Linked DNA regions of Homo sapiens. The protein of the gene in region 5 interacts with the protein of the main gene of each other region in a biochemical or structural test. Each region holds a gene or a part of one and is shown on either strand. Other genes may lie near its edges. The genes, in order: CDX2, CDK19, NR4A2, STAT2, SMARCA4, DPF2 and CBX5.

Evidence for each region.
Region 1: the proteins of SMARCA4 (region 5) and CDX2 form a complex in vitro, tested with the Homo sapiens proteins (one study listed by BioGRID).
Region 2: the proteins of SMARCA4 (region 5) and CDK19 form a complex in vitro, tested with the Homo sapiens proteins (one study listed by BioGRID).
Region 3: the proteins of SMARCA4 (region 5) and NR4A2 form a complex in vitro, tested with the Homo sapiens proteins (one study listed by BioGRID).
Region 4: the proteins of SMARCA4 (region 5) and STAT2 form a complex in vitro, tested with the Homo sapiens proteins (one study listed by BioGRID).
Region 6: the proteins of SMARCA4 (region 5) and DPF2 form a complex in vitro, tested with the Homo sapiens proteins (one study listed by BioGRID).
Region 7: the proteins of SMARCA4 (region 5) and CBX5 form a complex in vitro, tested with the Homo sapiens proteins (2 studies listed by BioGRID).

What each region holds. Positions count from the first base shown.
Region 1 is NC_000013.11:27,966,516-27,970,806, forward strand, and holds the start of CDX2 (homeobox protein CDX-2), read right to left. Parts: upstream 2,801-4,291; 5' UTR 2,492-2,800; coding exon 1,951-2,491; intron 1,779-1,950; exon of another isoform or gene 932-1,778; coding exon of another isoform or gene 742-931; intron 1-741.
Region 2 is NC_000006.12:110,805,470-110,808,969, forward strand, and holds part of CDK19 (cyclin-dependent kinase 19), read right to left. Parts: intron 1-3,500.
Region 3 is NC_000002.12:156,326,830-156,329,721, forward strand, and holds part of NR4A2 (nuclear receptor subfamily 4 group A member 2), read right to left. Parts: coding exon 2,494-2,892; intron 1,705-2,493; coding exon 1,575-1,704; intron 1,186-1,574; coding exon 1,022-1,185; intron 92-1,021; coding exon 1-91. UniProt on the Homo sapiens protein: Transcriptional regulator which is important for the differentiation and maintenance of meso-diencephalic dopaminergic (mdDA) neurons during development.
Region 4 is NC_000012.12:56,350,108-56,353,607, reverse strand, and holds part of STAT2 (signal transducer and activator of transcription 2), read left to right. Parts: intron 1-2,157; coding exon 2,158-2,316; intron 2,317-2,417; coding exon 2,418-2,510; intron 2,511-2,719; coding exon 2,720-2,779; intron 2,780-3,175; coding exon 3,176-3,196; intron 3,197-3,417; coding exon 3,418-3,500. UniProt on the Homo sapiens protein: Signal transducer and activator of transcription that mediates signaling by type I interferons (IFN-alpha and IFN-beta).
Region 5 is NC_000019.10:11,030,530-11,034,029, reverse strand, and holds part of SMARCA4 (SWI/SNF-related matrix-associated actin-dependent regulator of chromatin subfamily A member 4), read right to left. Parts: intron 3,301-3,500; coding exon 3,137-3,300; intron 741-3,136; coding exon 513-740; intron 264-512; coding exon 165-263; intron 1-164. UniProt on the Homo sapiens protein: ATPase involved in transcriptional activation and repression of select genes by chromatin remodeling (alteration of DNA-nucleosome topology).
Region 6 is NC_000011.10:65,343,852-65,347,351, reverse strand, and holds part of DPF2 (zinc finger protein ubi-d4), read right to left. Parts: intron 3,362-3,500; coding exon 3,283-3,361; intron 2,773-3,282; coding exon of another isoform or gene 2,731-2,772; intron 1,687-2,730; coding exon 1,549-1,686; intron 1,423-1,548; coding exon 1,294-1,422; intron 1,106-1,293; coding exon 993-1,105; intron 1-992. UniProt on the Homo sapiens protein: Plays an active role in transcriptional regulation by binding modified histones H3 and H4. Is a negative regulator of myeloid differentiation of hematopoietic progenitor cells. Might also have a role in the development and maturation of lymphoid cells.
Region 7 is NC_000012.12:54,273,623-54,277,122, reverse strand, and holds part of CBX5 (chromobox protein homolog 5), read left to right. Parts: intron 1-3,500. UniProt on the Homo sapiens protein: Component of heterochromatin that recognizes and binds histone H3 tails methylated at 'Lys-9' (H3K9me), leading to epigenetic repression. In contrast, it is excluded from chromatin when 'Tyr-41' of histone H3 is phosphorylated (H3Y41ph).

The DNA.
Region 1 (4,291 bases), on a different chromosome or scaffold from region 5:
CCGGAGCTGAGGCGCAGGGCAGTTCCCTCAGCCGAACACCCCGGGAGGGAGACTCGCCTGGAAGTGTCTCGGAGCGACCCTTGCTCGGGTGCTGCCCCTTCAGTGTCCCGGACGTGCCGGGCAACGCGATGACCAGACCCTGAGCGCTCTTCGACCCATGCCCCAAGGGCCTTGGAGGCGCCCCACACCCCCTGGGAACCTAGGAGCGGGGCTATGGAGGGGAGGGATGAGAGGGACTTGTCAGAATTCATTATTGACTGCGAAAGTCACCACCCTCTTTCCGGGCCCTAAAAGAGACAATGGCAGGGCTGGGAAGGTGTATATCAAAGCAAGCCAGGCCGCGTCCCCCCCTCCACCCCCACACCTTGACAGATGACGCTCCGCAGAGGAGCCCGGCTCCGGCCCGCGGGCTGCGGCCACCCCACATTAACATCACAAGGGCACCCGGCGCCGACTGCGGCCTTGCCACCTCGGCGCAGGACTTCACAGCGGCCTCTCATCTGCTGACCCCGCGGCCTGGGCTCTGGCGGCTTCCCTCCCGCCCCCTTCCCGGCCCTCACCCCGCGGCCGCTCTCCCGGGACACGCAAAGGTCTTCCTTAGGGCGTGCGCCACCCCCGCCAACCGCGCCCCAGACAGGGGCTGTAGAAAGTGGGTCTTTGGGAGCCAGGATCTGGGAGCCCCTGCTAGGAGAAAGGCGCCTCCTCTAGGAGAAGGGACCAAGCCAAAGCTCTGAGGCTCACCCGAGGCTGATCTGTGGCCTTCTCCCCGGTCGGCGGCATTCCCACCAGGACTCTCCCTAGCATGTGCACAGTGACGCAGAAACCGATGCCCAGAGACAGCCCCCAAAGGGCGCTTTGATTTATACAGTTGTAATTGGCTATAAACTTCTGCAAAGTGCCCATAACCAGCGTGCCTGCCCAATTGGGGCATCAAGGAGCGAAGCAAGAAAAGCGGAAGCGCTGAGGGCTGGGGAAAGACTTTAAAAGGGGCACTCAACTAGGACTCTCCCCACCGCACTTCCTTGCCACCTCTAGGCACACTCGAACACCAGAAGGGGCAGACCCAGAGTCAATGAGCCCCACAGTCCGGCAAACCTAGGATCTTTTTCAGTTGCACACACACACTCACAGACATCCCTGACACCCTTGAAAGGAAGCTTTGGGAGAAATGACCCCTACCTGGAGCGGCGGCTTAATTCCCACCAGGGTTTCCTCCCCGTCTCCCTGCTCTCTCCGCAGACGCCTGCCCCTAGGCTTCTTGCCCCTAGCCTTCCAGCTTTTGCTTGAAATGACCCCTTCACAGGTCAGAGGTTCAGAGACGGGGCGCGCCCCCGTCGCCTTAGCAGCTGGGGCTAGCACCTTCTTCCCAGCGACAGCAGCTCTCCCTGGTCTGCCTGCTCGCTGTACCTTGAATTGGCCCGAGTGGCCAAACCCGGTCCCACACACAGCCTAGCCATCCTCCGACCCCCCCAGGTCACTTCTCTTCTTAGATGGCTCAGATGGGGAAAGAGAGAGCGGAGATAAATGGCCTAGACCTAGCCCAAGAAGGTTCGAGCCTCCCTCTCTCCTCGGCGGCCAGGAGCCACGCAAGGAATGCATGCCGCAGCAAGTGCCGGAGGACGCGATTCTGCCGGCGTCCAGCAGTGCTCACGCCGACATTCCCCGGAGCTTCCCGAAGGTGTCCCGGGGTTGCGAATGAGGAGCTCTTGGAAAGAGGACGCCTGAACACGGTGTTGAGACTCAGAATATTCACTCCCAGGCTCAGTAGGTCAGAGAAGCCCCGACGGGCCAGAGGCCCCCGAATTTGTCTCCGGGCCGTGCCCCTCCTGGCGCCGAGCTCCCAGACAGCCCGGGACGCCCCTGTGCGCACTGGACGCGCGACGCGCAGCAGCCACTGGCTCGACCCGCGCCTTCCCAAGCACCCTCCGAAGGGGCGCAGCCTCTGCTTACCTTGGCTGCCGAGGGACTGCTGCGCCGGCTTCCGCATCCACTCGCACAGGTTCCGCCGCTGGCCGCCGGGAGACAGCTGCTCGGCGGCAGCGGTGGCGGCGGGCCCAGGAGGGCCGGGGTTGAGCGTTTGCAGCAGCCCAGAAGCGCAGGAAGGCGCGGCGGCCGGGTGGTGCGGGTGGTGATGCGGGTGGTGGTGCGGATGGTAGTCTGCGGGGCTGCTGTAGCCCATGGCTGCGGCCGGGGAGCCACCGTTGAGGCCGTGAGCCACGGCGTTGGCGGCGGCCGCGGCGCCTCCGGGCGCGTAGCCATTCCAGTCCTCCCGGAGTGGGGCGCCATACGCTGCCGGCCAGGATGGCCCCGGGGACTGCGCGCTGTCCAAGTTCGCTGCCGCTGCAGCTGCGGCCGCCACGTGGTAACCGCCGTAGTCCGGGTACTGCGGGGGGCTGACGAAGTTCTGCGGCGCCAGGTTGAGGCCGCCAGAGTGGCGCACGGAGCTAGGGTACATGCTCACGTCCTTGTCCAGGAGGTAGCTCACGTACATGGTGGCGAGGGTCCGGGAGCAGACCTCACCATGCTGCCTGGGGACCGACGCTGGAGGCTGCCGGGGGGCACGAAGGGAAAGGGGCGAGGGGACTCGAGGAGCGGCGGGTGGCTGCGCCCCAGCCCGCGGTGCTCCGCTGGCTCCTCGCGGCTCTTCTGCCTCCGAGGCGGTCCCTCCCTCTGGCCTGCCTCCTCCCTCCCTCCCTTTCTTCCTTCTTTCCTCCCACCTCCTTCCCACTAGGCTGCAGAGGCGGGGAAGACCCGCCACAGGCTGGCGTGCGGAGCCCCAGGCCGGCGGCCTTCCGTGATTAACGAGTGTTTACAAGACTCTATTAGTAATGACACAGACACCAATGGTTGGAGACGTCGAGGCGCAGCGCGCACTCTACGCACAACCCCTCGAAACATAATTTGCATTTTAAAAGATAAAGGGGAGGGAGGCTCGTGAGAGGGCAGCGACCTGACACAGCTAAATATTCAAACCTTTATTGTTAAGAGCTTCCTCCTTCCAACCTGGTGCACTTTAACCTCCAATCACAGGTTCAAAGAATGAAATCAAGAGACTTACAAAAGAGAGGGGAAGAGAAAAGGCTATCTTGGTAGGAATCTGAGCTTGGAGACAGGAGCAGTGGTTGTTTATGCATTTGCAGGGAAGAGGGCGGTCAAGAAACTCCTTCTGTCCCAAAGAGAAAAGAAAAGAGAACCATTGCTTTGATGAGAACGTTTCTGACCAACCTGGTAGGTGACAAGCAGAGAGCCCTAAGAGATGGGCCATTCCTTCCCGCCCTGTGCTCCTGGCCCGGACGACTGCAGCCCCAAACAACTGTCACCTCCAGTTATTTTCTTGCCCAAGGAAATTACTCGCCCTCCGCACAAGACAAATTATGATCCTAGATTCAGGCTGCATCTCTGACTTCATCTTACATTTGAAATTTGAGTTAAATTCAAGCGATTTATTGTTAAACGTTTACATTCAAGAATCAGAAGTTTTAAACTACAGAAGTAATGGGCATGTGGTAGAAGTTAGGCTAGTGGTTATTGGCGTGCATAACTGGAGGCGAGCTAGGGGATCGTTGGTAAAGCAGTTTCTTAGGCTGCTGGTTACACAGAATGTCAGTTTGTGAAAATTCATTGAGCTACACTTGTATGTTTATTATACTTAAATATAAGGAAAAGAGAATTTCTGCTAATGCTTACCTAGGTATTTATGTGTCTTACATCATACCTGTATCTTTAAAACTCTCTGTCCTTTACAAAGGGAAACGTTCTCCGAAGAAATTTATTTCTCATTTCCAGGAGATGATAAGGCAACTCAGGGCCATTATTAACGACTGCTAATGAAAAGCTCTGAGTTGAGAAAGGATCTCTCTTGGTTTGGGAAGCGCTGCGGCCAAGGGGCCTAGGGCTGGAAGTGGCCGTCTTGGGGACCGAAGCCGCGCAGCCCGGGATCGGGAGCTGCCCCGACAGGAGCGCGGAGGCGGCGAGATTCGGCCCCCGCGCGCGCCCAGCTCGGTTTCAGCAACCGCGTGGAGTGGGCCTGCGGCCGCCGTTCACCTCCTAATACAAGCCTTTGACAGCGCTGCCAGATTCGGGAATGAGGATCACTGCGGCGAGGCCCGGCGGGCTGGGCAGCCTGACTCGGCGGCTTTGAGCGCTCTCAGAACCCGCGGGCGCTCGCGGCACTCCTGGAGACCTGCACTTGTCTGTTCTCATTGTCAAGCGTTTCGCTCGGATATTTGTCACCATCGCCTTCATCCTGTCATTTCTAGGGTGCTCTCCAGTGTCCTTTATCTCCCTTGAG
Region 2 (3,500 bases), on a different chromosome or scaffold from region 5:
TAATTTTTCAAAACAAATAGATGTCCCTCAGTATACCTAAAGGGTTGGTTCTGGGACCCCTGCATATACCAAAACCCACATATACTCAGGTCCTGCAGTTGGCCCTGGAGAACCCACCTATACAAAAAGTTGGCCCTCATATACGCAGGTTTCACAAATCTGCGTGTAAGTGGACCCACACAGTTCAAACTCCTGCTGTTCAACAGTCAACTGTACACAATTTATAACACCACATATGAACTTATTTGTCTAGCATATTAAGTTCAAAAATGTAGGACACTATATTTTATATACTTTAAAAAATAAAAATACTTAATTCATCAACACTGACATAGATTGCATTAAAAACCTTTCCATGGATCTACTCTTCCTATGTAAAACTCAGAGACATGCCTTTTCCATGCTCCTAAAACAGTAGCCATGAGAAAGTAGCTTAAGCCCAGGAGGCAGAGGTACAGTGAGCCAAGATCGTGCCACTGCACCCCAGCCTGGATAACACTTCTCAAAAAAAAAAAAAAAAAGTAAGTAACTTGTACTTCCTTTAACAAATGATTTATAGCTCATTTTTATGTGTTAATTATCACTGTCAGCTGGGTGCAGTGGCTGACGCTTGTAATCCCAGCACTTTGGGAGGCCGAGGTGGGCAGATCACCTGAGGTCAAGAGTTTGAGACCAGCCCGGCCAACATGATGAAACCCCGTTTCTACTAAAAAATACAAAATTAGCTAGGCATGGTGGCGCATTCCTGTAATCCCAGCTACTTGGGAGGCTGAGGCAGGAGAATCGCTTAAACCCGGGAGGCAGAGGTTGCGGTGAGCCAAGATCGTGCCATCACACAACAGCCTGGGCAAGAAGAGCGAAACTCCATCTCAAAAAAAAAAAAAAATTATTATTGTCTTAACATTTCACTTCCTTATTCTTAGCCAACCCCCCCATCTCCAGTCTTCAGATATTTCTATCTTATACATCACCATATTAGTAAACCATTCCAAGCCATTACTTCCAAAGGTAAACAGCTTCTAGGACTTTAACTTACAGACACATTAATAGGTACAAAATGCTGTGCTTACTAGGATATTCACTTCAGTGTTAGTACTAGCAAGACTGGAGACAGCCAATGATGTAAGTCAATACAATGAGATACAACAAAACTATTAAGAGAAACAAGGCATCTCTGTATATAGATATGTCATAATGTTTAAGCAATGTTTAAGATTTAAAATATGGGCCAAGCACTGTGGCTCACGCCTGTAATCCCAGCACTTTGGGAGGCTGAGGCAGATGGATCACTTGAGGTCAGGAGTTCGAGACCAGCCTGGCCAACATGGTGAACACTGTCTCTACTAAAAATACAAAAAATTAGCCAGGTATAGTGGTATATGCCTGTGGTCCCCGCTACTCAGGAGGCTGAGGCAGGAAAATTGCTTGAACCTGGGAGGTGGTGGTTGCAGTGAGCCAAGATCTTCCCACTGCACTCCAGCCTGGGTGACAGAGAAAGACTCCGTCTCAATAAATAAATTAAATAAATAAAAATAAAAATAAAAATAGGGCCAAGCATGATGGCTTATGCCTGTAACCCCAGCACTTTGGGAGGTCAAGGTAGGAGGATTACTTGAGGCCAGGAGTTCAAGACCAGACTGAGAGACATAGCAAGACCTCATCTCTACAAATAATTTAAAAAAAAAAAAAAAAGCTGGGCATGGCCCACATCTGTAGTCCCAGTTACTCAGGAGGCTGAGGTGAAACAATCGCTTGAGCCCAAGAGACAGACTTGCTTGAGCCCAGGCAGCCAAAGCTGCAGTGAGCCATGATCTAAAAATAGAAAAGTGTGCAGCACACTAGCATGTCATATTTAATGACATCTTTAAGTTAACACACATGCACATACCCCAAAAGAAAATCCTCTTAAAGGACAACCAAGAATGACTGCCCCTAAAAAAGGGAAAGAATGGCTGGGAAAGGGATGACTTACGTTACACTGGTGGTTTTTTGTTATTTTTGTTTTATTGAAACAGAGTCTCACTCTGTCACCCAGGCTGGAGTGCAGTGGTGCAATATTAGCTCACTGCAGCTTCCACCTCCCAGGTTCAAGCAATTATTGTGCCTTAGCCTCCCGAGTAGCTGGGATTACAGGTGTGTACTACCACGCCCGGCTAATTTTTTGTATTTTTAGTAGAGACGGAGTTTTCGCTGTTGGCAAGGCTGGCCTTGATCTCCTTGCCTCAAGTGATCTGCCCACCTCGGCCTCCCCAAAGAGCTGGGATTATAGGCATAAGCCACCGCGCCCAGCCACATTGTATATTTTTACGCACATATACTATTTACAAACTTTTTTTTATAATACCTTTTTTTTTTTTTAAGAGAGTCTCGTTCTGCTGCCCATGCTGAAGTGCAATGGCATCATCATAGCTCACTATAGCCTCAAACTCCTGGGCTCAAGCAATCCTCCCACCTCATCCGGCCATAAAATACTTTTTTGAAAAAGTAGTTAAATATCCTTGATTCCATTCATAAATTGATAGTTCTTCAAGTATTGGTTTGCTTTATCAAGCTATTTCAGCCTTAATATTTCTCCTGTAACTTGAAAAAAGACATAACAGTTTTCCTATTTATCCACACCCTGATTTAAACATTTTTATTGAAAGGTCACTTGATGGATCAGAGAATTATTTGTTGCTAAGCCACTCATCCAAAGACTCTAAACCTACACAGTCCAATGTGATAGCTACTAATTAGTTTCTAATCACACTAACTACATTCCAGTAATCGATACCTATGTGTGGCGTGTGGCTTGTGGCTAGCATATTGGACAGCACAGATGCTAAACATTTTCAGATCACTGCAGAAAGTTCTATTGGACATCACTGCTCTACACCAGGAGTCAACAAACTATAGCCTGCAGACTAAATTCAGCCAACTGCTTATTTGTATAAATAAAGGTCTACTGGAACACAGCCATCCTTATCCATACTGGTTTACGTATTATCTGTCGATGCTTTGGCACTACAATAGAGTTGAGTAATTGCACCAGAGACAGTAAAGCCCAAAAGGCCTAAAATATTTAGTATCTGCCAGAAAAAGTTTGCTGATCACTGCTCTAGATTATCAAATTTCATTGAAAAAGAACACATTAATTTCCCTTAGGCCTCAAAAAGTTTTTGAAGGCTTGCATTACAAAAATGACAAACCAGTTAAACATAAACAGATGTCTACTTCATTTACTAAGTGTTAAAGATACTTAATTTTTTACCATAAACCCATAAAACCAAAATTTGTCCTAAAATGTATTTAAATACTGGTATTTTCTAAGCATCTCTATAAAATAGCTAGTAAAAGCACAGAAGACAGATTACTAGTCTAGCAATTCTAAAAGAGCTGGCCTAAGAGAAAATATTTATTTCTCAAAAATATGCCTATTTTCCTTAGCAATATCTAATATCTGTTCAAAGAAATGGGGCCAGGCGTGGTGGCTCACACTTGTAATCCCGGCACTTTGGGAG
Region 3 (2,892 bases), on a different chromosome or scaffold from region 5:
TGATCTCCATGGAGCCAGTCAGGAGATCATAGAATTGCTGGATATGCTGGGTGTCATCTCCACTCATTTGATAGTCAGGGTTCGCCTGGAACTGGAATTTCATTTTAAAAAGCACTTAATGAGGTTCTCTAAAATATATAACCCGTGAAATTGCTAACCCCGTTTCTAATAGGGGAGCCAGGTTTTTATAACAATTAAACCTCTCTCTGACCAGTAAGGAAATTAGATGTTCCGGGGCAATTAATTCAATTAGGGATGGTGCTACGAGGTCGCTGCTTTAAATATGTAAATTGCCATTTCCATACAGACTAAATACAGTGCCATCCAGCCCTGGGAAACGTTCACTCTTATCTCCACAAAACAATTGACATGTTAGTATTCATGCTAGTCCCAGAGTGGGCCTCGAGCTGAGACGCCCTTTTGCAAATCTTAATAAAATTGCAGTCCCTACCAGGTTTGCTCAACATACTTCCTCCAATTAAAGCCCGCATATTTTTCACAGCTGGAGTAAAAAGGATCTGACCACTTGATCCCCCACCCCACTGGCATTCTTTACACCCTCTCCTTCCCTTCCCTGACCCCCAGACAGGCCCCCACATCCTTCCCCAGCACAGTGCCAGGAAGGATGAGGATTAAAGCATCTATCTCTATGGAGGACTGGGAATAAAGTAGATTGGGAAGGGGGAGAGTTTGCACAGCCCCTGGATTTCATGGTAGAGGCACTGGTGTATATGGAAGAGGAGGGGCGATGGGGTAGTGGGGTAGTGGGAATTCACACAGCTTCAAACCCTGTGGCGTGTCCCTCTCCTCCTTCCTCCATCCTGTCCTCATGTCTATGCCCCCAGCTACATGGATTGTCTGAAGATCTGAATCTTGAGGCCCTGGCCAGAGCTGCGAGGCATATACAGCCTTGCTTGCCTTCTTTACCCCCGTTGAATCTGAGAGTTAATGACGGATGTGGGGAGGGGTCCTGCCCATCTGTCGGTTTGTCCACATGATATCCCCCCCGCCAGCTTCTTACCCTGGAATAGTCCAGGCTGGTCATAGCCGGGTTGGAGTCGACATGGGCCCTGACGAGGGCACTGATCAGACTCACCGGGGGCGAAGGGGGAGAGGGCTCCTGTGGGCTCTTCGGTTTCGAGGGCAAACGACCTCTCCGGCCTTTTAAACTGTCTGTGCGAACCACTGCAAAGGAAGAGCCCTGTTAGCGCCGCTTTTCCGAGCCCAGGCCCAGCTGCTGCCTCGGTCCCTCCCCGGGGAAGGCCGCAGCCGCGGGGCACCAGGCTGAGCGGCTGAGGGCCCCAGTGCTTGTAAAGCCTTCACTGACTAGAAGCATTAAAAAATGCGGGGTTATTTTATGTCTTCCTCCAAATGGGTCGTATAGTTAAAGGAGAGAAGGGCCTGGCGGCTTTCTCTAGGGAAGGCCGGGCAAGCAGGCAGCTGCAGGGTCCTGGAGGCCATACTGAGGGGGAGTCGGAGATCCCCAGCACCGGGAAGTGGAACGTGATGCTGGAGTATGAGCAGTGGTTTCCTAAAGGCGCAAACTGGAGGGTCGGCAGCTCCCCTCAGCCTACCTTCTTTGACCATCCCAACAGCCAGGCACTTCTGAAATCGGCAGTACTGACAGCGATTCCGGCGACGCTTGTCCACTGGGCAGTTTTTATTTGCTAAACACACGTATTTTGCATTTTTTTGCACTGTGCGCTGCAAAAGGAGACAATATAGACCAACATTTTTTTTCTTCTTTTGAAAATCAGGCAACTCGGAGAAAATTTCTGTTATGTGACTGGGGTCTACGATTCCTCCCCACAAACAAACACATACACACAATTCCATTTTATTTTTTTCTCTTCCTTTTCTTTCTTTCTTTTCTTTTTTCCTCCCCCAGGGCATTTAACAGAAGAAAATTGATAGCGTTAACATTTGAGCTAACCTTGCCGCTCCTTGCTGTGTTTTATATGCCAAGAGAAGGAGAAGGAGACGCTCAGTAAATACAAATCCGTGGGCATTCATATTATTTACATTCCTTGGAGACCTTCTCTATTTAAAATGATAAGATTATTCAATCAGGATGGCGAAATAAAGAGATCACTTAATTTGACCATAGGGAATTCTGTTCCACTTGGTTAGCTCAGACACGGTTCTCTGTCCTAACCAATTTCATTCTGAACAGGGAAGACAGCTCCTAGCACATGCAAATGACCCTCTTCCAACTCCGGCTCCAGCAACTTCGGGCGGGGGCCAGCCGGGTCGGCTGAATGCGAGGGGGATGCGACCCTGGCCTCCCAGTCTTTCTGCTTCCCTTTCTCAGACACCCGGAAGTCCCCGCCGCAGCCCATGGTCTCCTGCAGGGCAGCTTCGGCGGACCCCGGAGAGCTGGGCAGTCCCGGGAGAGCTGGGGCTGGGCTACTGGCACCAAGGCAGAGGGCACACTCCGAGGTCCCGGGCACTAGGGGCTCCCTACCTGCCTACTCCGCTCCCGCCATTGCTCACCTTAAAGAAGCCTTTGCAGCCCTCACAGGTGCGCACGCCGTAGTGTTGGCAGGCCGCGTTGTCCCCACACACAGCGCACAGCCCCTCGTTGGAGGGGGAGCCCCGCGACGGCGGTGAGGGCACCTGCGTGTCGAGCAGCTGAGACGCGTGGCCGATCTGCAGGCCCGGGAAGCCCATGGACGCGGGCTTGCGAATGGGGTTGGGCACAGCGAAGGTCTGCCCGTCCACCACGTGGTGGCTGCCGGCGGGCTCCGGGTTCATGGGGACGTGCAGGGGCCCGTCGAAGCGCATCTGGCAACTAGACACCGGGGTGCCAGGGGGCGATTGCTTAAAGGAGAAGAGGGAGAGGCGGGAGACTGGCGTTTTCCTCTGCTCGATCATGTGCGTAGTGGCCACGTA
Region 4 (3,500 bases), on a different chromosome or scaffold from region 5:
GGTTATTTTCAATTTCTTGTTACCTTTTTCCAGGAAACGCTATATTTTATGGTAATTATATTGTGTTGTAGAAAAATCACTAGTGTGTCCTCCAACATACTTGAAAAATACCTACTGTTTTCAATATTTTCTCATTTAAAAATTTATTATAATTTAGTCTTTTAGAAATATACCAGGCCAGGCATGGCGTCTCATGCCTGTTATCCTAGTACTTTGGAAGGCTGAGGCAGGAGGATCACTTCAGTCTTGGGGTTTGAGACCAGCCCGGGAAACATAACAAGACCCCATCTCTACAAAAAAAAAAAATTTGTTTTTTAATTAGGCATGTCCGGACACAGTGGCTCACACATGTGGCCAGCACTGTGGGAGGCCAAGGTGGGTGGATCACTTGAGGTCAGGAGTTCAAGACCAGCCTGGCCAATGTGGTGAAACCCCATCTCTACTAAAAATACAAAAATTTGCCAGGTGTGGTGGCGCATGCCTGTATTCCCAGCTACTCAGGAGGCTAAGGCAGGAAAATCACTTGAACTCGGGAGGCAGAGGTTGCAGTGAGCTGTGATCATGCCACTGTACTCCAGCCTGGGTGACAGAGCGAGACTCCGTCTCAAAAAAAAAAAAAAAAGATTAGGCATGGTGGCACACGCCTGTAGTCCCTAGCTACTCAGGAGGCTGAGGTGGGAGGATTGCTTGAGCCCAGGTGTTGGAGGCTGCAGTGAGCCATGATTATACCACTGTAGTCCAGCCTGGACAACAGAACGAGACCCTGTCTCTAAAAGTATATATGTACACATACCATAATACCCAGCTACTGAGGAGGCTGAGGCAGAAAGAGTGCTTGAGTCCAGGAGTTTGATGTCAGCCTGAGCAATATAGCAAGACCCTCACCTCTTAAAAAAAAAAAAAGTAGATTAAAAAAATACCACAATTGCTCAGGTAGATTGAAAAACAGGCATATAGTACTTATGGTACAGGACCAGCATGCATGCATGCATGCATTGATTGATTGATTGATTGATTGATTGAGACAGGGTCTCTCTCTGTCTCCCAGGCTGGAGTGCCTGGCCTTAAGTGATCTGCCCACCTTTGCTTCCCAAAGTGCTGAGATTACAGGTGTGAGCCACCATGTCAGCTGGCGAGGCTTTTTAAAAGATAGTTCCAAGTGTTACAGCTCTTTTAGGATTTGTCTAGCAGGCTTTCAGGTTTTTGCCAGAAACCACCCCCACCCCCACCCCCACCAAAAAAAAAAAAAAAAAAAAAAGATAGTTACAAATGTTTCCCAGAATAGTTGTCCCAATCGAATCTATTTTCTCATGTGTAGTGTATGGTTGTTTTCCTGTCACCACATTGCTGATTATTATTATTTTTAATTATAGAGACAGTAAAGTACAGTAGTTAAAAATGTGAGTTGGGGCTGGGTGCAGTGGCTCACACCTGTAATCCCAGCACTTTGGGAGGCCAAGGTGGGCGGATCACCTGAGGTCAGGAGTTCAAGACCAGCTTGGCCAACATGGCAAAACCCCGTCTCTACTAAAAATATATATATATAAGTTAGCCGGGCGTGGTGGCACATACCTGTAATCCCAGCTACTCGGGAGGCCAAGGCAGGAGAATCTCTTGAATCCAGGAGGTGGAGGTTGCAGTGAGCCAAGATCACACCATTGCACTCCAGCCTGGATGACAAGAGAGTGAGACTGTCTAAAAAAAAAAAACAAAGTGTGAGTTGTACAATGAGACTGCCTGGGATCACATACAAGCTTCATCCCTTACTAGTTGTATGACCTTAAGCAAGTCACTTAACCTTTCTGTGCCTCAGTTTTATCATCTGTAATGTGGGGAAAATAATAGTACCTGCCTCAGAGGGTTGTTTTGAGGATTAAATGCATTAATATGTGGAAAGGGCTTAATATAAGTTGTACATAGCATATGAAAACTGTTATGTTAAATCTATTAGCAGTTTTATATGTGAAAATAGCTTTGATTTTCATTTCTTGGATTATGAATCATGTTGAATAATCCTTTATATGCTTCCTGGATTCTTTTTTTTTCTTCCCCCCAGTCAGTTTCTGACTCTTCACATATTTACAGAGAGATCTTGGAACCTGGATGGGGGAATCCAGGAAACTCATGGATTCCTTCTTCCTGAATTTTATCACCCAGGTTCACAGCTGGAGCAAAGCTGTTGTTTCACCTGAGGCAGCTGCTGAAGGAGCTGAAGGGACTGAGTTGCCTGGTTAGCTATCAGGATGACCCTCTGACCAAAGGGGTGGACCTACGCAACGCCCAGGTCACAGAGTTGCTACAGCGTCTGCTCCACAGGTCTAGAGGCCAGGCAGGAACCCTGGGGGAAAGAAGGAACAAGGGAAGCCATTCTTACAGATACTGAGCTATATATTCTCTCCACACCTCTCTCTCCTCAGAGCCTTTGTGGTAGAAACCCAGCCCTGCATGCCCCAAACTCCCCATCGACCCCTCATCCTCAAGACTGGCAGCAAGTTCACCGTCCGAACAAGGTTGGCATTCCAGAACTCATTCCCACTTCCTTTTTCCAACCCTGCCACTGTGTATTTTCTGGCTTTACAGCTCTTCCCACTCTTGGCTTTTTCTTCTCTTTCCCTGCAATCTCCCTACCTCTTATAATCCCTCTTCTCTTTTTCAAACATCTAGTCTATCCGGAAGGTTGAGGTTGACCACTTTCCCCTATCCCCCTTCCTTCCCCCAGGCTGCTGGTGAGACTCCAGGAAGGCAATGAGTCACTGACTGTGGAAGTCTCCATTGACAGGTAAATTGGAGCAGGTGAAGGGTGGCCAGGACACGGGCTGCTGGGGTGGAGGAGATACTCACTCTTCACAACAGGGCCCTAGGGCTATCTCCTTCCTCCTTCCAATCCTACCTCACAGAAATTATAATTCATTTCTTTTGTTGAACACTTACTTTGTGACATGCAGCATGTCAGCTACTCATTTAATTGTCACACCAACCCCATGAATAAACTATTACCAGTGCACTGTACAAACAAAGATACAGGCTTAGAGAGACTGATTACATCTCTTCTCAAGGCCACATAGCTAGTGAGCTCAAGTCGGGTTTGAACCGAGGTCTGTCTGATCCCAAAGACGAAACTCCTAACTTCCATACTCTTTTGCCCAATGATTTTTTTAAATTTATTTCTTTTCAGGAATCCTCCTCAATTACAAGGGTAGGTGCTTGACAAGGACACTGCAAACATCTGTACAGTGTATGACCTGCAGAACCACATTCGGCAGCCCTGGTGGCACAAACAAGGAAGAGGGGGATTTGGGATATGGACAAAGGGAGATGGCGAGATCTGAAATGAAGTGGAACTTCTGTTTTTTTTTTTCTGCTGAGTTTTTAGAATAATTCCATTCCTTGTCTCCATGTATCTTCCTCCTGGAACAGCTTCCGGAAGTTCAACATTCTGACTTCAAACCAGAAAACTTTGACCCCCGAGAAGGGGCAGAGTCAGGGTTTGATTTGGGACT
Region 5 (3,500 bases):
CTGGTGGTCCCGGCACGGCTGCGGTGGATGGGGACCCACACGGCAGCGAAAGGCACACACACGCACACGCACACGCACGCTCCGTGGGACCAGGGCCCTTGCTGGCCGTCTCAGCCGAGAAGCCGAGGATTGAATGGGCATGGAGACTGAACTACCCCTCTCACCTTTAGAGGTGGCTCCTCCAAGTCGGGGTTGACGCCCGCTGGCGGAGGGGCAGTGTGGGCGAAGCTGGCACTGCCGCTGCCCGTGCTGCAGTGTCTGCTCTGTGGATAAATAGAGGACTTCAGTCTCCAGGGCTGTCAATCCGGCGTCTTTCACCAGCAGTTTAGAAAAAAAAACCACTTCAAAGAAAAAGCAAGTACTCATCCTCTTTCCGTTCAGCCCACACTCCCTTTACTCCAAAGGGATGCAAAAAAAATAAGAGTGCAAAAAAGGTAAAAAAACAAAAATGAAAGCCGCTCACGCGTCCACCATTCACGCTGGGGAGGGGTCGGGGCCGGTGCTGGGCTCACCTCATCCTGCTCCTCGTGCTCCAGGATGGCCTGCAGGAAGGCGCGCCGCTCATGGCTGGAGGACTTCTGGTCGAACATGCCGGCCTGGATCACCTTCTGGTCCACGTTGAGCTTGTACTTGGCTGCAGCTAGGATCTTCTCCTCCACGCTGTTGACGGTGCAGAGGCGGAGCACACGCACCTCGTTCTGCTGCCCGATGCGGTGGGCTCGGTCCTGCGCTTGCAGGTCCTGGGGGAAGAGGTGCCAGTCAGTCCCAAAGGAGCCCAGGAGGTCATAAAAGGGAAGGTGGCCTCTGACACTAGCTGGAGAGGTGTGCTGTGCGTGCCACCCTCGGCCTGACAATTCTGCCCAGCCTGACCTGCCGCCGCATGAAAACAGAGCTGGTGGAGCCTGGGCCGCCATGTGTCCCTCGGGGGAAGGGGACTCTCATCACGTTCCTCCAGAAGTGCCACCTTCTACCTTATTGGGACCCCACAGATATTCGGGAAGAAAGCACCAACCCCCCAGGGGATTATATTCTCAAGCAGCTCCCGTGGCAGCGGCACAGCTCCCCACAGCGTGGACCTACACAGTCGAGCACCATTTACAACAGGGGGCCGAAGCTCGGCCGTGTTGTGGCAGTGCTTGGTTTGGCTGTGGGCCCTGCCACTCTCACAGTGCACACAGAACCGGAACCAGGTCTCACCTCTGTGAGCCTCAAAACTCCCTCAGCCTACATGGGGCCCAACCCGTGGCTACTGCATACCTCGAATGAGTGAATAAGCACCAGGAGTGTGGCCCAGTGACTGGTGCAGTTAGCTCCCAACAATGCAGGTGCCGTGGATGGGCTTTTTTTCTTTTTTTTTTTTTTTGAGACAAAGTCTCGCTCTGTCGCCCAGGCTGGAGTGCAGTGGTGCGATCTCAGCTCACTGCAACCTCTGCCTCCCGAAGTTCAAGCGATTTTTCTGCCTCAGCTTCCTGAGTAGCTGGGGCTACAGGCATGCACCACCATGCCTGGCTAATTTTTGTATTTTTAGTAGAGACAGGGTTTCGCCATGTTGGCCAGGCTGGTCTCGAACTCCTGACCTCAGTTGATCCACCCACCTCGGCCTCCCAAAATGTTGGGATTTCGGGTGTGAGCCACTGCGTCCAGCCTGGGTTGTTAGTTTTATCATCACCCCAGCACAGTACGAGGAGGCTAACACGAAATCCTGTCTCTGGGCCCAGGAGCTGCAGGACCAGGGTGAGTACCAGTGATGCTCTGAAACTTAAGACTGGCACCCATGGGGTGGCAGAGGCCACAGCTGGTGGGGACCAGGAGTGCCTTGTGTCTGCCGCTCAGCCCTCCTGCCCTGTCAGCACACTTCCTGGCAGGGCCAGCCCTCCCCAACGCGCCCCCAGCCCTGAGGTGCAGCTTCCGCCTGCTGCCGGCCTGCCAACGGGGACACACAACTCAACCACCTCCTAAGAAACTGGCTGGTCACCAGGGTCTGGGCAGAAGCTACACCCCAGCCTGATCGTAAAAGGGGCCACCAGTGACCACCACGGCATTCACCCATCAGACAAGCGACAATTTACACACTGAGAACGCTGCTGCCCTCACGCTGCAGGGAAGGGCAGGGTACATTCACACCCCAGCGTAGGAGTGAAACCACTTTGGCAGTAGCAACCAGAACACGAAGAGGACAATGTCTGGGGTGGAGCGACCCCATGTCTGAGGGCTGCGCAGACCTAGGGTGTTTGCACAAGCACTCTGAGAGAAAGAGGGACCCTGCTGGGTTGGTGACCAGGCTGATCAACAGAAAAGACGGATGCCTGCCAACCAGAGTTTGAGAGCAGACGTCCAGGGGTGGCCATCTGCCGGGACGCCTGGTGGCCGATTAGATGGCTGGGTAGCTTCCGATGTGCACTCGGCGGTTGACACCCACTGCTTGGTGGAAGAGGCACATGCTAGGCCACGCCGCATCTGTGTTAATCTCAGTACATACATGTGCGAAGGCAGATGGGCTGGCAGAGGCTCAGAAGAGAGCACGGTTGGAGAGGAAGGGAAAAGGGACTCCTGACTGTCACTGGTGTTTACATGTTAAAAACAATAAGAACTTATCAGTCTTATAATGAAACACAGAGAAAAGTTTAACTCATTTTCAAATTCTTGTAGCTATGTAACAGCATGACCTGGTATCCACCGATGCCGAGGCCCATGAGGGGTACATGGTTATGGAACAAGAGGAGGAAGTAAACGAAGTGGCATGGAGTTTACCCCCAATTGTGTCTGAACAAGCGCCAGTGTGTGTGCTCACAGGGCACACTGCAGGGGCCGCCCCACAGTGACGGCGCAGATTGATCAGGATACTTTCCACCTCCTCATGGGTGCCATTCCAAGATTTAAGAAAAACCAAACCGACGGATGGCTTATACACTGCTTTCCCAATCAGAGGGAAAGGCTGTTTGTATTTTGGGAAACAGGAGGACCCCGCCTCTTTTCTCCCTGATGACCTATGGAGATATGGGTGCAGCTCCTCCCGGCTCCTGGGGTCCAAGACAATGTGGAGGAGGCTGGAGGACCCTCAAGCCAGGGCCGTCTCCTCGAGGTTTTGCAGGCACCCCCTTCCTTCTCCTCGACCTGGGGCCCGGCCCGCTTTTACCTGGTGAGGATTCCAGTCGCTGTCAAAAATGATCACAGTGTCTGCCGACTGGAGGTTCAGGCCGAGCCCCCCAGCCCGGGTGCTGAGCAGGAAGATGAAGTACTCAGAGCCGGGCTCGTTGAAGGTTTTCAGCAGCATGCCCCGGTCCTCCGCCTTCGTGGTTCCTGACGGGCACAGAGGAGAACAGGGTCAGCGGGGTGACCTCAGGGGTAGAGTGGGGACACCAAGGAACACCTGCTTCTGAGAGCAGGAGCAGGATCAGCACCTGCCAGCATCCCCAGATCCCTGGCTCCGCACTCTCCACACGGGCCTGTGGGCCACTGGCGAATAACTGGATTTCCAGTGTTTCACCACAAAACGTCTC
Region 6 (3,500 bases), on a different chromosome or scaffold from region 5:
TCAAAATAAATAAATAAATACATAAAGAATAAATAAATAGCTGGGTGCAGTGGCTCACGCCTATAATCCCAGCACTTTGGGAGGCTGAGGCAGGCGGATCACCGGAGGTCAGGAGTTCGATACCAGCCTGGCAAACATGGAGAAACCCCATCTCTACTAAAAATACAAAATTAGCCGGGTGTGGTGGCACGTGTCTGTAATCCCAGCTACTTGGGAGGCTGAGGCAGGAGAATCACTTGAACCCAGGAGGCAGAGGTTGCAGTGAGCTGAGATTGTGCCACTGTACTCCAGCCTGGGCGACAGAGCAAGACTCCATCTCAAAAAAAAAAAGTAAATAAATAAATACATAAATAACCATGTCACTTCCCGAGTAAAACCCTTCAACAGTGTCCTGTTGTACCTAGAATAAAACCCGAGGCCCCAGAGATCTGGCAGTGCTTGCCTCTCTCATCTCATTGCCCACCATACTCTCCCATGCCCTGTCATCTGGCTTGTCCAACATAAGGCCTTGGCGCTGGCTGCTCCTTTCCTGGGATTCCTCTACCTCCAAATCTTGACTGGCTCCTTGGTATCACCAAAATTTCAACACCAGCATCACCCTCCCAGAAGAGCCATACCTGACCATCAAAATAAATCACTTATGCAATTATTCTCTGCCACAGTACTGATTTCGTTTTTTTCATGGCACATTATACAAATCTCATTTACATCCTTGCTTATTGTTGTTCCTGTAAGAATGTAAATCTCATGAGGCAGGGACCTTGTTTGTCTTTAGCATCTTTAGTGACTAGAACAGTGTCTGACATAAAATCAGCACTCAATATATATCTGGCAACAAATCAGAGTTCTGACTGAGATGCTAGGGAGGGGCGTGTGGCATGTGGGAGGGATCCTGCTCCCTTTTTAAAAGAAAGCTCACTTTAGAGGGAACTGTGCAAACAGCAGTAAAAGCCCAGAAGGAGCCATGCTGAGGAGGGGGCGGGGATACACACGTCATTCTCGGAGGTGCCGCAGATATTGCAACATTTGCACTCGATGCACTGCCAGCGGTATGTCTTCACTGCCGCCATCATCACGGGGGTAAATTGGAGGCAAGATGGATGCCCTGTAGTGGGGGAAGTGAGTGAGACAGACAGTCGGAAATGCGGGGGGAAGAGAGGAGCTCCTGCCTGTGGCTACATCTTCTCTTGGTTAGGAAAAGCGAGGTGGGCTGGTTATGACAGCCCTAGAGGCCAGCAAGCCAAGAGCCCCTTGGGGACTGGGCAAAGCAGCAGCCTTCACGGGAAGCAGTACCTGAGCGGCCACAGTCAGAACAGGACACCAGCTCCTCGGGTTGTCCCGTCTTCTTGTTAATCTTTGAGTCCCCCAGGCAGAAGTCACAGTAGTTGTTGGGCAAGGCCAATCCATCAGGACCCTTTTTGGCTACAGAGAGAAAGAGTTTTGATGACACCCATGGGGGTCCCTGAGCCACTCAACACCCATGCAAGGAGTGGTTTTCATAACCAGGCCAACTTCTGCTTGCCCACCACTTCTGACACCTCAGCTTACATTTCTGCTCCTCAGACCTCTGGGAAACAGGAGTGGGTGGTTGAGAGTCTTCCTTGTCCTCGCCCTCCTCCTCAGCCAAGTGGGAGTGGGCATAGTGGTAACTGAGGCCTGGTCGGTTCTTGTAACGTTTTCCACAAACTGAGTGGGAAGAAGATTGCAGAGAAAGGTGTTAGGATACAAGAGTGCCATGTCCCCATCCCTGCAAGCTGTGGGGGCTCCACCTGAGGCAGAGGGCAACCATCCCTTCCCCTAGCAGCTCCACTCTGGGACAGGCCTTGAGTGACGGCCACTTCCCCTCAGCCAGGAGCATCAGGCCGTGGGGCTCTCTAGCTTCTGGGGCTCTTTTCCCTCCTGAACTCCAACCCCATGGCCACCACTGCTCTTCCATGTTGACTTTTGGGGGGCTTAGCCCTTGCCCCATCACCAGTTAGTTGCTCTGGGATATACTAACAGTCTGGGACGCTCCAGGTCAGGAAAGGGAAGGATATTCCTATATCTTTGGGGTGGCAGGAAGGGGGAAAAGTGGATAAGACTCCAAACTTTTTTACCCCTCAGTAAATGTGGGAGGCTCATGCTACCCCACACACCATGGAGCCCATCTCCCCTGAATGTGGGTAAACAAGCAGGGGATGGGTTTCTTGGGGATAGCCTATCAATGAAGCCAGTTGGGCAGTTGGTCCCCAAAGAAATTCAAGCACACTCCCATGTAATTGCCCTGTCCAGGCCTGCCAATCAGCAAGGAAAGCAGATCCCCATGAGGCATTTTGTCATCTTGAGAAGTAATACCAAGAAGGGCAAGGGGGCCAGCAGGAAAGGAGTGGGGAGAGAGGATGGCAGGAGGAGGTGGTGGGGCAGTGGGGAACATGAGCTGACCACCAGCTGCCTGGTCTGGGGAGGGAGCGGAAGGGTCTGATTGTAATGGGCTCCTGATAATGCTTCTGAAGCCACCCCATGCACTGGGCCGAGCAGCTCTAGGAGCAGGTTTGTGGGAAACAAGCAGTGGTAAAGGCAGCCTTCAGGACTTTGAGGAGTAGAGCACAGCAGAAATTCCACTGCTCCTACCCCCATGCCATTCCAGAGATTTTAAAGCTAGCATCCCAGGAAATGAGAAAGGCAGGAGGAACAAGGGAAGAGGGAAAAAGGGAAAGGAAAACCACAAGTCTGAAAAGTTGAGAGAGCTACCTCTCTGGGGCGCTTTCGAGGTATGCTTTTGTTTGAAACTATCTGAAAGACAGAAAGAAAAGTCATGAGAAGAAGGCCTTGATACACTTGAGACAGGAGCAGCAGCAGCAGGAAAGCAGAGCAAACGAGAGAGAAACCCCAGCGGCGATGGTGCTCCCAGGGTGGAGGGACAGAAGTGGGGCAAGGCAGACAGAAAGAAAAAGAGAACAGACGTTGAAAAACTCAGTGTCAGACCCCTGGGGCCCTGGCTTAACTGAGGCCAGGAGACCTGCAGGCCATCTGTTGAGAGGCCAACCCTGCCTGCTGTGGCCCCCACAAGCAACCCTACCCCAGAGGATGGCAGAAATCTTTCCCAGAGCATGCAGGTCCCACCCGTCATATAGCAGGGACCCAGGCCTCCCAGGGGTCTCAGACGGAAGCAGTCAGCAGGCAGGACAAGAGCCCAGGTTTGTTTTAATACTCTGGGCAAAAACACAACCCTCCCTCCTCTCATATCCAGAGCAGGAGCTGGGTCCAAGGCAAGGTCTACCCACCCACTTGTGAGGCACTCACTGTCACAGGCATAGGGCTTATCCCGGTCCTCCAGGATGGAAGCATCCAGCTTCTTACGGGCACTGCCCACACCCTTACCCTGCCAAGAAGAGCAAAGAGACACCCTTATTTTGGTAGCTGGGCCTGAGGAGTTAGACTCTTTTGGAAGTGGCCGCTAATCTCACTTGAAATAAAATAAGGAATTCCCTAGGCCACCCTGTCCCAAGATGCAGGCAGCA
Region 7 (3,500 bases), on a different chromosome or scaffold from region 5:
AGGCAGAGTTTGCAGTGAGCCGAGATGATGCCACTGCACCCCAGTCTGGGCGACAGAGTGAGACCTTGTCTCAGAAAAAAAAAGTTTTTACCACTTTTTGCTGCTTAAACTTACACATACGATTGATTGCATCTTGTCCTTGTTTGGCTTCCTAAAATAATGGCAAATATGTTTTTGAAGAAGGTAGACTTTGCCTCACATCCTTCTTTTTCACTTGATTCTAGCTAGCCTCTTTCTTTTCCTGGGATTCTTTTGGATCCACGTCTCAAAACTTTTTTGACCGCAATAAGAAATATATTTTACACTAATCCTGTACACACATTGAAACATTTCACTAAACGTGCAGAGTACTCTGATATTCTTTTGTCTGCAGTATACTATTTCATTGTCTTAAGAAAGCAGTCAATTTCCATTGAACTGATTTCACAGCTGTTTATAGACCCAGGGTTTTGGGGGAAAAAGACTGCTGATCTGAAGAATAGGTCACCAAATCATGCCAACTTTGATTGCTTTCTGAGTCAGTTCCTTCCATCTCCAGCCCCAGCCACTTGTACAGATGGTCCCTTGCTTGTGATATTTCGACTTAAGATTTTTCACCTTTACAACGGTGTGGAAAGCAATTTGCATTCAGTAGAAACCATATTTCAAGTATCCACATAACCATTCTGTTTTTCACTTTCGGTACAGTAATCAACCAATTACATGAGATATTCAACACTTTATTATAAAACAGGCTTTGTGTTAGGTGATTTTGTCCAACAGTAGGCTAATGTAAGTATTCTGAACACATTTAAGGTAGGCTAGGCTAAGCTATGATGTTCAGTAGATTAGGTGTAGGAAATGAATTTTCAATTTTTCATATTTTCAACCTATGATGGGTTTATCAGGACATAACCCCATCAAGGAGTATCTATGTAAACAGATTAAGCAGTGACCCATTATTTGGTGTTTTTACTCATGTGTTTTACTTTGAAAGATTATAGGAGCCAAACCGAGACTTTCTAGTTTACTGTCGTGTGCAAGTGAAAACTGCTTGTTTTATTGTGAAGTCTCACAATGCTTAAAGAGGGAAAACAATAAAAATATTGCAAAATGTCTCCCAATGTGATAGGTTTTTTTTTTTTTTTTTTTTGGAATGGAGTCTCGCTCTTGTTGCCCAGTCTGGAGTGCGGTGGCACGATCTTGACTCACCTCAACCTCCGCCTCCCAGGTTCAAGCAATTCTCCTGCTCCAGCCTCCTGAGTAGCTGGGATTACAGGCATACGTCCGGCTAATTTTTAGTAGAGACGGGGTTTCTCCATGTTGGTTAGGCTGGCCTCAAACTCCTGACCTTAGGTGATCTGCCTGCCTTGGCCTCCCAAAGTGCTGGGATTACAGGTGTGAGCCACTGTGCCCAGCCTCCAATGTGGTAGTTAATAGATATGATGAACTTTTCTCTCTGGTGGTGAAATTTTAGTGGGTAATTTTTCATTGAAATTCTGGTACTATCACAGAGTTAGAAATCCTAACTTCCAATGTGATACGTGTTGGGCCTCTAATTACAGAAGTTATAACGCTTGTGCTTAGAACTTAGAGACATACTGCCTGGGCGCAGTGGCTTATGCCTGTAATCCCAGCACTTTGGGAGGCCGAGGCGGGCAGATCATGAGTTCAGGAGATTGAGACCATCCTGGCTAACACGGTGAAACCCCATCTCCGCTAAAAATACAAAAAATTAGCCGGGCGTGGTGGCACACGCCTGTAGCCCCAGCTACTCTGGAGGCTGAGGCAGGAGAATTGCTGAGCCTGGGAGGCGGAGGTTACAGTGAGCCGAGATTGCACCACTGTACTCCAGCCTGGGTGACAGAGCGAGACTGTCTCAAAAAAGAAAAAAAAACTTAGAGACATACCTACTATTGCAACCAAATCTAAAAGGGGTGTTTACTAAAGGGGAATATATTCTGTCTGAAAACTAGTAAGTGGAAAGCTTCAATTTGGGTAGTAGGTGAGCAGGATGATAGTTGGGGAAAGAAAGAGTGAGCCTACATTTGAAGCGGCTGGATTTGTATATGGCTAGGGAAATTCTGGAGATTCTCAGAGCCCTTAACAATACTCTAGAAAAGAGAAAGGTTTGGTATCAGGGTACAAAGATTTTTGAGGAAGACTAAGTCGCTTTTTGTTTCTATTGAGATTTGTTTGTTTTTGAGACAGAGTCGCGCTCTGTCACCCAGGCTAGAGTGCAGTGGCGTGATCTCGGCTCACTGCAACCTCTGCCTCCCGGATTCAAGCGATCCTCCTGCCTCAGCCTCCCGAGTAGCTGGGACTACAGGCACGTGCCACCATGCCTGGCTAATTTTTTTGTATTTTTAGTAGAGACAGGATTTCACCGTGTTAGCCAGGATGGTCTCAATCTACTGACCTCATGATCCAACCGCCTCGGCCTCCCAAAGTGTTAGAATTACAGGCATGAGCCACTGTGCCCGGCTCTATTGAGGTCTTTAACCACATAGCATGATTTCCATATCTTATTGGTATAGCCCATTTAATTAATAACTGTCCTGGTAAAGCATTTCTAGTCTTTATTTTGTCCTTTTACTTAGATTATTTTTATTTCCATTCATCTTACATGAAACTGGGCCTAAAGCTGTGTTATGGATATTGATTTTAAAAGTAATAAATTACAACATGAGATACCACTTGACTTAGTATGGCTGTTTACATATCTGCTATTCGTGAACTCGGACTCTGGGCAATCATCTTTTTCTCCTGATATAAACTTTTATTTTTCTTCCTTGCTTATAGAGAATGATTTTAACTGATCATTGTACTAATAGGAAGGAGTCCAGGTCATCCTGAGAAGAGTTCGCTTGTCCAGAGTCCAAGATGCAGATTTGTTGGATTTCTGTAAGCCACTCGAAGCCACATATTCATTTCTGATGACAGCTTTACACTTGTGCTGGAAGAACACCCACTGTGACAACTGCTGCCTATGTTTAGTCTGTCCAGGAGCTCTACCAACTAGCATGTTTGCAGAAAAACCTACACTGTTCTTGTTAGCAGCTATGTAAATATTAGATCTTTCTGAGTTTCTCTTCTCAGATCTGCCAATTTCTTTGGGGCAAATTGTATCCTGCAGTAGCCTCAATTTACCCTTTGAAATGAGGGATTAAAGGTTTTAGACATTCTTTGGGTTATCTGAAACACAATTCTTTTTGGATCAGTAATGTTTTATATATGTCCACTTTATGATGTTTAAAATTTTATTCCCCCTATGTATTAGTTTCCTGTGGCTGCTATAACAAATTACCACAGACTTGGTGGTTTAAAACAAGAGGAATTTATTCTTCTCAAAATTTTGGAGCCCAGAAGTCTGCAATCAAGATATTGAGGCCCCTCTGGAGGCTCTAGGAGAGAGACTGTTCTTTGCCTCTTTTAGCTTCTGATTATGGTCAGCATTCCTTGGCATATCTCTCTGTTCTGTTTTCACATTGTCTTCTCTTTTGAGTACTTGCATCAGAACT